Homo sapiens: one gene and its partners. The protein of the gene in region 2 interacts with the protein of the main gene of each other region in a pairwise test. Each region holds a gene or a part of one and is shown on either strand. Other genes may lie near its edges.

What was found.
Region 1: the proteins of ETV7 (region 2) and WT1 interact in a two-hybrid assay, tested with the Homo sapiens proteins (one large-scale study listed by BioGRID and IntAct).
Region 3: the proteins of ETV7 (region 2) and IRF4 interact in a two-hybrid assay, tested with the Homo sapiens proteins (one large-scale study listed by BioGRID and IntAct).

Annotation. Positions count from the first base shown.
Region 1 is NC_000011.10:32,411,540-32,415,039, forward strand, and holds part of WT1 (Wilms tumor protein), read right to left. Parts: intron 1-3,500. UniProt on the Homo sapiens protein: Transcription factor that plays an important role in cellular development and cell survival. Recognizes and binds to the DNA sequence 5'-GCG(T/G)GGGCG-3'. Regulates the expression of numerous target genes, including EPO.
Region 2 is NC_000006.12:36,374,170-36,377,669, forward strand, and holds part of ETV7 (transcription factor ETV7), read right to left. Parts: intron 1,867-3,500; coding exon 1,702-1,866; coding exon of another isoform or gene 1,661-1,701; intron 1-1,660. UniProt on the Homo sapiens protein: Transcriptional repressor; binds to the DNA sequence 5'-CCGGAAGT-3'. Isoform A does not seem to have a repressor activity. Isoform C does not seem to have a repressor activity.
Region 3 is NC_000006.12:394,752-398,251, reverse strand, and holds part of IRF4 (interferon regulatory factor 4), read right to left. Parts: intron 3,432-3,500; coding exon 3,245-3,431; intron 2,406-3,244; coding exon 2,317-2,405; intron 1,145-2,316; coding exon 1,000-1,144; intron 1-999. UniProt on the Homo sapiens protein: Transcriptional activator. Binds to the interferon-stimulated response element (ISRE) of the MHC class I promoter. Binds the immunoglobulin lambda light chain enhancer, together with PU.1.

The DNA.
Region 1 (3,500 bases), on a different chromosome or scaffold from region 2:
AGGCTTTTGGGGGGAGTTTTAATTTCCTTCTCTGCGTAGTTGTATTTTCTAACTGTTCTATAATTTATACACATTACTTACATAATAAAAAAATTCAATACATTCATCAAATGCATGTCCAAAAATAAAAGGATAGAAAAGGCCAACAGCCAGGGAGGAGAAAGAAGAAGCAGAAAAGTGAGAAGCAAAGGAAAGAAGCTTCCGAATCAGTCCACACTAAGTGAGAGGGACACAGAGCTAAGTCACGAGTCTCCATCTTTATCAAACCCTGGAGTCCCATTCTTCGTTCTGGTTGGCAGGGTTAACAGACCTCAGGCCAAGTCCAATGCAAGGCAATAATAAAGAAAAAAAACTCTTTAAATGGCATTAAATGAAACTTTAAACGGTGGAAAATTAATAACTTGTTGCTGGGGGTGGAGATGGAGTAGGCTCGGCAATGCTGATATTCACAGAACTGAGGCTCCCCACCTTCACTTTGCATCTCAGGCTCCGGGAGCCACTTAAAAGCAAGCTATCTATTTCCAAGAAGTAAATCTCTTGGACGGATACCTTATGTTCACGAGCCCGCGAGGGAAGGTGCTGGGCTGTGTATTGGAGCTCCCAGCCAGAGAAGACAGCTATCTCTTTTGGCACAGGTTCTCAGGGATGAGACCATGTCTAGCGGGGATTTTCTCCAGATTCGACAGCCTTGGCCCTACCAAAACGCACAGCTTTGTTTTCACCACACATCACTCATTGTTGAGTCTTTTTTGTTTTTCCTCTCAAGCATCCACAGGTTGAATACTGTGTGTTCCCAACAGCCTGTGAACTTCTTGGACCAGCAAAGGGACATTCATTTTGCTGAGCACTCCTTTCACATTTCTATTGTGTTCGATTTCCCACTCCCCCTACCCGAGTCCCCAGAGAATAACTTCTTCCTTGTTTTAATAACTTGGATCACAGTCAAGGTTGATGTGTTTCTCCATTTTGCAGGATATTTTCTTCAGAAGAGACAAAACAGAGGCCAACAGGGTAGGAGAGGCTTGTTCGGAAATCAGCAGCCATTGAGAACACACAGAAAATGTTTTCAAAGAAATAGAAAGCAGATAACACAAGGCACCATCAATAGAAGGCTTCAAAATGGTGGACTCATACTCAGAAAGATTCCCCAGCAACGTTTTCTCCCAGGGACCCACTTTAAAAATCTAATTTCATTTGTTTGGGGGTGAGGGAGAAGAAAGTACTTTCCGTAAAGTACCTTCTCACTGACTTAAATTGAAATACATTCTCCCATTGGAGGTCATAAAAGTAGCTGTGATCCCAGTGGGTATGCAGAAATTAGAAAATGAGTAAAGGGAGAAGGAGGAGAAAGGAGCGGTTCAGTCACACAAGTATATCCCACCTCTAACACAGCAAGTTTTCATTTCATCTGCCCATGTTCTTTATAAAATCCTATCCCCACCCATTGTAACACTGCTCCCTGACATCTAATGAAAGATGTCTCCGTGGACTTGCTTGGGATACAAGGAAACAAACCTATTCTTTGTGAAGCCACTTTTTTGAAACGAAACATTTTCAAGGAAAGAAGACCCGAACCAGCATTTAGTGGGGTTTAGTCTGAGGTGCATGATCTTTTAATAAAAAATTGATAATGCCTCTTTTTTATGAGTGATATGGAAATTACATCTTTCTTCTCTAAAACATGAACCAAATCACCAGTTTTTCCTGTAATAGATCAACCTTGTCACATGATTTTTCTTAACATTGATTTCAAACAGTGTCAAGACACTAGTTATGAATGAACACAAAAAGTTATGTGTCTGAATTTGTCTTCATGGAATACCTTTTCTCAAATGTATTCTCCATATTAATACTTTTCATACCATGGCAAAAGAAAGTAAATCCAGTATCACAAAGAACAATGACCCCAACCCAGATTGGTCTCCCCTGGGGAAAGGCCAAACTTTCTACTGGAATTACAGATTCAACTAAATCCAGTTCTGGGCTGTTCATGAGTTTGGAGGAGACAGCCAAGGTGTCACCATGTTTGAATGCTAAAAGTGAGGCAAACTGTGGGTCATGACACATCAGTGGGTTGTAAAATCAATCTAGTACATCACAATCAGCATTTTAAAAAATGAAATAGGATAGAGAGAAAAAGTCAGCATGCAGAGCATGTCATAAGAGTATTGCTCAGTGAAAATCTATGTTGTGTGTGTGTATGTGTGTGCACATGTGTGTATATGGGATCTCACTGTAAAGGGTATTTCTAACTGTGGTCACAGTCTAAAAGGTTTCCACCCATTTAAGAAGCTCTAATCTAGGGCCCAGGTCCTGGAGTCAGACAGAACTGATTCCAACATGGCTCTGCCACTCACTTACTATGTGACCTTGGTTAGATAGCTTAATCTCTCCACCTCCTCAGCTAAAAAATTGGATGTGGCCATAGTGTCCTGGGGGTGTTGTAAGATCAGATCAGAAGAGGAAACATGTACAGCCCCTCACACGGCACCCAATACTGTTTATATACATCCTTAGATAAATGTCCAGTTCACAAAATGGAAGCGGAAATTCGTGGATTTACAGTATGTTCTACAGTGTGAGAGAAGATGGTAGGCAATTAGCTAATTGTAATTTTTGCTCTGCAAAACAGTTGTTCTTTTGTGGAACTATCTGTTGGGCCATCTAGCCCTTTTTATAACAGCTCCCTGAATAAAGTTAATATTCGAGAAATATACATATATATTGTGTTTGTTTGTTTTGTTTTGTTTTGTGGAAGGGTCTCACTCTATCGCCCAGGCTGGAATGCAGTGGCCTGATCTTGGCTCACTGCAACCTCCGCCTCCCAAGCTCAAGCAATCCGCCCACCTCAGCATTCCAAGTAGCTGGGGTTACAGGCATGTGCCACCACGTCTGGCTAATTTTTTTGTATTTTTTGTAGAGAAAGGTTTTCACCACATTGTCCAAGCTGATCTCAAACTCCTGAGCTCAAGTGATCCACCCACCTCAGCCTCCCAAAGTGCTGGGATTATAGGCGTGAGCCACCATGCCAGGCCAAGAAATACATTTTTAGTCAGGGCGCAGCAGCTCATACCTGTAATCTCAGCACTTTGGGAGGCCAAGTGTGGCGGATCGCCTGAGGTCAGGTGTTCAAGACCAGCCTGGCCAACATGGCGAAAACCTGTCTCTACCAAAAATACAAAAATTAACCAGGTATGGTGGCAGATGCCTGTAATCCCAGCTACTCAGGAGGCTGAGGCAGGAGAATCACTTGAACCCAGGAGGCAGAGGTTCCAGTGAGCCAAGATCGTGCCACTGCACTCCAGCCTGGGTGACAGAGTGGGACTCCATATCAAAAAAAAAAAAAAAAAGAAATACATTTTTATTTCAGAAATCCTTTCTAAGATGTAAGTAACGGACCAATGAAAACTCTTCTCATTTTTTTCTTATGTAGGATTGAACAGAACAAATTGTTCACACTTTGTGCTTCATCCTTATAATACAGCTTCTGCCTCCTCAGC
Region 2 (3,500 bases):
CAACATGGATAGACCCTGTCTCTACAAAAATTTTAAAAATCAGCTGGGTATGGTGCGCATATCTGTGGTCCCAGCTACTTGGGAGGCTGAGGCAGGAGAATCACTGGAACCCAGGAGGTTGAGGCACAAGTGAGCTGTGTTCACGCCACCAAACTCTAGCCTGGGCAATAGAGTGAGACCCTGTCTCAAAAAAAAAAAGCCAGAATTGGGCTCTGTCCTTGGTCCCAGAAATCTTCTTTGACTCATACCTTGGGCTAAGGTGCTGATAGTAGGGCAGGAAAGAGGGGATCTGTGGGTAGAGAGCCAATCTGGGGATCCCAGGCAGCCAGAGGGATACAATGTAGACAGTGGGCACTCGAGGACCAGGAGTGCTTGTAGGAAGGTGGAGAGACGAACAAGGGCATGAAGGGGACCAGCCCCAAGCTCACCTGCTTCCCCGCTTTGCCTCAGTGCAGGACCATCAGGGCTGTGGGGAAGCTGGAAGCCTTGTCTCTCTGTCCCTGCCCTCCCCTCACCTCCCACTAGAGCTCTTGAATCCAAGCTCTTAGAGAGACGAAAGTTCCAGCAGCTGCTACAGGAGGCTCACAGTGGGAAGTGGGTGATAGAACTTGGGATGTCAGCTGGGAGCAGTGGCTCATGCCTGTAATCCCAGCACTTTGGGAAGCCAAGGTGGGCAAATCACCTGAGGTTGGGAGTTTGAGACCAGCCTGGCCAACATGGTAAAACTCCATCTCTACCAAAAATACAAAATTAGCCGGGCGTGGTGGCAGGCGCCTGTAATCCCAGCTACTCAGAATGCTGAGGCAGGGGAATCGCTTGAACCTGGGAGGCAGAGGTTGCAGTGAGCCAGGATCGCGCCACTACACTCCAGCCTGGGCGACAAAGTGAGACTCCATCTCAAAAAAAAAAAAAAAAGAACTTGGGATGTGACATGAGACTGGGCTGTATGTGTTAGGTATAAACAGGCAAATCAGCAGATTTCAGAACGTCTCTTTGCCAAATACACTGTGGGCTTGCTTGGCCAAAAGACAAGGAACACAGAAAACATGAGCGAATTCTTAAGAAAAAGACACCAAATCAGCACAAACAAAAGAGCCACTGAAAACAAGCCACACAAGACTCAGATGCGATTCTAGAGGTTCCTGGAAGGCCCTGCTGCCCGCTACCACTGGCCACCCTCCCTCCCACCACCAGTCCCTCCCCACAAACTCCGTGCTGCTGGAACACCATCATCTGACATTCATTCCTTTGCCCTCAGACCTAGTTTCTGGTTAAAATCAAAAGTCATATTGGAAGTCAAGGATTTTGCTGTTACCACCCATTTATACCTCAGTGTGAATGAATATTTGATCTTTCTCTAGTTGGTTTTTTGTTCAGTAGGGGTAGCGGGTGGGAGGCAACAGGATGGAAGTGGATAGAGGAGACAAGGGCCACAGATAAAGGGAAGAGAAAGCGAGAGAGCAGAACAGGCCCCTACAGCTCTGAAAACAAGTGGTCAAATGGACTCCCTTGCTGAAGGCCTGCTCTAGCTAGGAACCACCAGATACACACGTATGCAGAGGGGCATCTGCAGTGCTGGAAATGAGCATGATTCCCCAAGGAAGACCCCTCCATCTCCCTCCCTGGGCCCCCCGGGGGTACTTGGGCCATCCTGGCCTACCAGGGTTCCCGCTTAGAGGAAAGCCTGTGCGTTTCCCTGACCTGAGCTGGGCGCACGGTGCCGGAAGTCGTCCTTGGTGAGGATGCAGAGGGCGCGTCCGTTCATCTCGAACCCGTGCTCCGCGGTGCATGGCAGAGAGTACTCCTGCTCTGCCCAGCGCAGCCAGTGCAGCACGTCCTCCCTGCTCCACAGTGCGGGCTGGATGCCTGCAACCAGCAAGGACCAGTCCCATCACTCCCCGTCGGGCCTCCTCAAAGAAGCCCACCCTGAACACTTCATCTGAGCAGATGCTCCCCTGTCCTGGCCCCCAACCCCCATCATCTTCTGTCGCTGCCACCTGTTTCTTTCCTTCCTAGCATGTTACGTTCTTTGTAATTACATTTTACATTGGATAGAATTATGTGTTCGTGTTTGTCATTATGTATGTAGCATGTATTTATTCACTTATTTATTGTTGGTACCTCCCCACCACCTGTTTTCCAATCATTCATTCAACAAGTGTTTAACGAGAACCTACTATGTGCCAGCACTGGACTAGGCGTGCTGGAGCACACTGTTATGTGTATTCAGCACCTAGAACAGTGCCTGGAACACAGTAGGTGCTCAGAAAACACATGTTGAGTGAGTACTTGAATGACTGAACAACCCAATGAAAGGGGTGTTACTGGCCAGGCGCGGTGGCTCATGCCTGTAATCTCAGCATTTTGGGAGGCCGAGGCGGGTGGATCACAAAGTCAGGAGATTCAAACCATCCTGGCCAACACGGTGAAACCCCATCTCTACTAAAAATACAAAAATTAGCTGGGCATGGTGGCATGCACCTGTAGTCCCAGCTGCTCGGGAGGCTGAAGCAGGTGAATCGCTCGAACCCGGGAAGCAGAGGTTGCAGTGAGCCGAGATCATGCGACTGCACTCCAGCCTGGGCGACAGAGCGAGACTCCCTCTAAAGAAAAAAAAAAAAAAAAAAGGAAGGGATGTTATTGTTTCCCAAATGAGGCAGTGAGGCTCCCAGAGGTTAAGTGACTAGCCCACACGCATACAGGCAGCATGGGGCACAGCCGGGCTGTCTGGCTATTGAACTTTTCTGCTCCATTGTGCCAACTTGGAATCAGGTTTGCTCAGGGAACAGCCCAGGGGACAAAGGGAGCCTCCTACACTCACCTTCAGTGCATGTGTTTTTATTTCTGGCAGTAGCCAGACAAGTGGCTGCTTATTCTCCCCACGTTTCCACTTTGCCTGGGACTGCTACGCTCCTAATGCCAAGTTTTGGATAGTGTTCAGCAGGGCTACGTTACGACTTCATGAGCCCTTGACACATTTGCCTTTGTGGGCAAAAAATATTTAAAATACACTGAGCGTGGTGGCTCCCACCCGTAATCCCAGCACTTTGGGAGGCCAAAGTGGGCAGATCACTTGAGCCCAGGAGTTTGAGACCAGCCTGAGCAACTTGGTAAAACCCCGTCTCTCCAAAAATACAAAAAAGAAAATTTAGCCGGGCATAGTGATGCACACTTGTGGTCCCAGCTACTTGGGAAGCTGAGGTGGGAGGATCGCTTGAGCCCGGGAGGTCACAGTGAACCATCATTGCGCCACTGCACTCCAGCCTGGGTGACAGAGTGAGACCCTGTATCAAAAAAATACATAAATTTAAATCCTATTTTATGACTGCACTGGTGTAAAGACTCAGAGCTCACTGGGTTCAGTTCTACAGGTAAGAAAGTTGAGGCAGAAGAGAGAAGCAACTGTCCAAGGCCACACCTTGGCAATGATAAAGACCAGACCAGCCTCTGCTCCCTTATACTCAAAGCAACACAGGAAATGAACTTAATTTTAACATTTA
Region 3 (3,500 bases), about 36 Mb from region 2:
CTTTACACAGTTCTAAGCATTGCCTCTTTCCCATGGTTACTAATTCCATAGAGCCAGAGCAGTAAACGCAAGTCTGAATTTCAGGAGCTAGTTTTATGTTAGCCAATTCCTCCACTACCATATTGGAAACCAGCCCTTGCTGCAAATCCCTCTTGAAAAGCCAATGCAACTGAATTCTGAGCTTTTTTGTGAACATGCCACTCAGTACAAACATTAAAGAGTGGTACACCTCTTCACTACCTGCAGCCAAGGATAACCTGAACATGACTGGGGAAAAAAAGGCCAAATTGCAAAGGAACAAATATTCCTAAAACATCCAAAGGGTTCAGTGTGTTGACCTGTCTCAGGACTTCCATTTAAGTAACTAACTCAAAAGTCCTGAAGGCCTGAGTTACCGCATTGCTAGATTCTCCCTGCACCCAGCTAATGAGAGCTTCTGCTGAGGGAGCTCATTTTGATGTCTGGGGAACTCCCGAGGGCAGGGGACCACATCTAATCCACAATCAGCAAGTCTTTCTGGGACCCAGTGGTAGGTAGGCACCTGTAGAGACGTTTTATGTGTTTGCCATGGTATTTTTCCGTTCCTTTTTTAGTATCACCTCTAATTCCAACAATAGCAACAATGAACACACCACTATTCGAGAGAAATATACCAGCTCAATAATCTCCCAGCATCCCTACTTATTATTTATGAGCTTCCACAATCTCCTCTCTATATAAAAAGTGGGGGGCTGTTTTCCACTGCCTGGAGTGATCTCTGTGGTGTTTAAATAAGATCCCACGAAGGGCAGTGCCTAGCATGGATCCTGAGAGTAAACTTGGCTGTGGGATGCCACCATCCCACAGGAGTGAGAAAACCCCCCTCTCCCCGAGCTGCACACGCAGCCTCTAAGAAGGGGAAAGAGCTTTGGTGCTGCCCAGGACAGACCAGGATTCGCCATGGCCCATGGCCACATTAGCAATTAGCTCTTCTATTTCCTGCACTGGTATCCTCCTTACCATTTTCACAAGCTGGGCCTTGCCAGTGGTGGCCGCGGGGTCCAAACGTCATGGGACATTGGTACGGGATTTCCGGGTGTGGCTGATCCGGGACGTAGTCCCTCCAGCTTCGGTCGAGGGGTGGCATCATGTAGTTGTGAACCTGCTAAAGGAGTGCAGGAGAGGCTGAGATAAGAAGCACTGGCATTGAGACGGGGGTAAAGGAGTGCAGGAGAGGCTGAGATAGGAAGCACTGGCATCGAGACGGGGGTAAAGGAGTGCAGGAGAGGCTGAGATAAGAAGCACTGGCATCGAGACGGGGGTAAAGGAGTGCAGGAGAGGCTGAGATAGGAAGCACTGGCATTGAGACGGGGGTAAAGGAGTGCAGGAGAGGCTGAGATAGGAAGCACTGGCATTGAGACGGGGGTAAAGGAGTGCAGGAGAGGCTGAGATAAGAAGCACTGGCATCGAGACGGGGTTAAAGGAGTGCAGGAGAGGCTGAGATAGGAAGCACTGGCATTGAGACGGGGGTAAAGGAGTGCAGGAGAGGCTGAGATAAGAAGCACTGGCATCGAGACGGGGGTAAAGGAGTGCAGGAGAGGCTGAGATAGGAAGCACTGGCATCGAGACGGGGGTAAAGGAGTGCAGGAGAGGCTGAGATAGGAAGCACTGGCATCGAGACGGGGGTAAAGGAGTGCAGGAGAGGCTGAGATAAGAAGCACTGGCATTGAGACGGGGGGTGCTCTTACAGCCTCCAAACTCCTCAGGGAATCCCTTATTAGACTGACAGCCGAAGCATTTTATCATCCGAAAAGACTGGAGTGAACCCTTCATCAGACTAAGTGAAAACACTCATGGAGGATCATAAAGGACAATGGAGATACTTGTACTGTTTTATGTAAAGCTTCGTCATATGGCTAAACCTGGCACCAAAAGTACCACAGGGGAATTTGCCTTCTTTTACCCACCAAAGTGGATGAAACAAAGCTGTCATTCACATCAAGAAAGCCTGAAGAGATCAGCTGCCCTGTGGTTTCACATGATAAGGCACTACTTCCAAAATCTTCCACTTCCACAAAACATCTGTTTCCCAGAAGACCTGAGAAGCATATTCCAACAGGCGGACACGCCCGACCCTCCCCAACTTAAAATCCACACCAATGGCAGCACCGTGTGGAAAGTGAGACATTCGTTCAGTGACCTGGGGTTTTTCTGGGCTGTTGGAGCAGCCATAGCAAATGGCAAGTTCTGCTGTCTGGGCTGCTGTGGTTCTCTGGCCATGTGGGCAGCTGGCCCACACAGCCTCGCCCTCAGGGAGCCCAGTGCCCTCCACCATACCTGGGCTGGGAGCGAAGGGTAAGGCGTTGTCATGGTGTAGGGGTGGCTCATGGACATCTGCGGGTCCTCCAGGGTGAGCTGCTTGGCTCCTACATGTTTGGGGAAAAGGGAAATGGCACAACGTAAAAACAGGAACTGACCTAACTAAATGTCAAATCTTGTAAAAATACCTGAGCATTTAATTCTTAGAATGCATAACACGGTGTTGACAAATAAGGTATTTTTCAGCAACTCCCTTGGGAAGTTATTTTTTCATGCTATTAAACTGATTTTTTTCTACAAGGTCTGAGTTGTACAGGACAGGTAAAGAAATACATGACAGATGGCATGCGAATGTGCCTTGTGACATAAAGGACCCCGCCAGCCAGATGTTTCCCAAGTGAGGTCACCTGAAGGATTTGTTCCAGATGCAGATTCCTGAGCTCTCTTCCAGACACACTGGTCAGAATCTTGAAAAGAGGGGTCCAGGAATCTGACTTTTAATAAACACCTCAGCTGACCATGTTACACTTTAAAAGTTGACAGTTTTATTACCATGCATAGTGATGAGATATTCCTCTCATTACTCCTTTTCTGCAAAATAGTCACTCACTAAAGACTATTAGATAAGTAAATTTTAACAAGTTATCCAGTTTTCTTTTTTCTTTTTTTTTTTGAAAGACTAACTGGAAAACACATATTCAATGCACCCCCCCCCATATACATTGAGGCATACAGTGTGATTAATTCTCCTATGCTGAACCCCACAGGAATTTCAACTTGTGACCCACATAACTCAGGCAAGGAGGCTGGGCTTCACTGTGAGGCAGAAGGCAGGCAGGCAGGCAATACAAAAGGAAAGCTAGAAAGTGATGCTCAGAATGAAGTTAAGGTGCCTCAAGGATCTGGCTGCCTCTGTTAGGTGACCCAAATTCAGGAGAGCCCCTACCTTTTTTGGCTCCCTCAGGAACAATCCTGTACACTTTGTACGGGTCTGAGATGTCCAGCTGGCTCCGCTCAACCAGTTCCTCAAAGTCATTGCTCTTGTTCAAAGCGCACCGCAGGCGCGTCTTCCAGGTGGGAGGGTCCGGCTTGTCGATGCCTTCTCGGAACTTTCCTTTAAACAGTGCCCAAGCCTGGTGGGAAAGAATGAAGAGAACGAAAAGTCAAAATACATGTCTGGTTTATTAGCTTTCTTTTTGGAA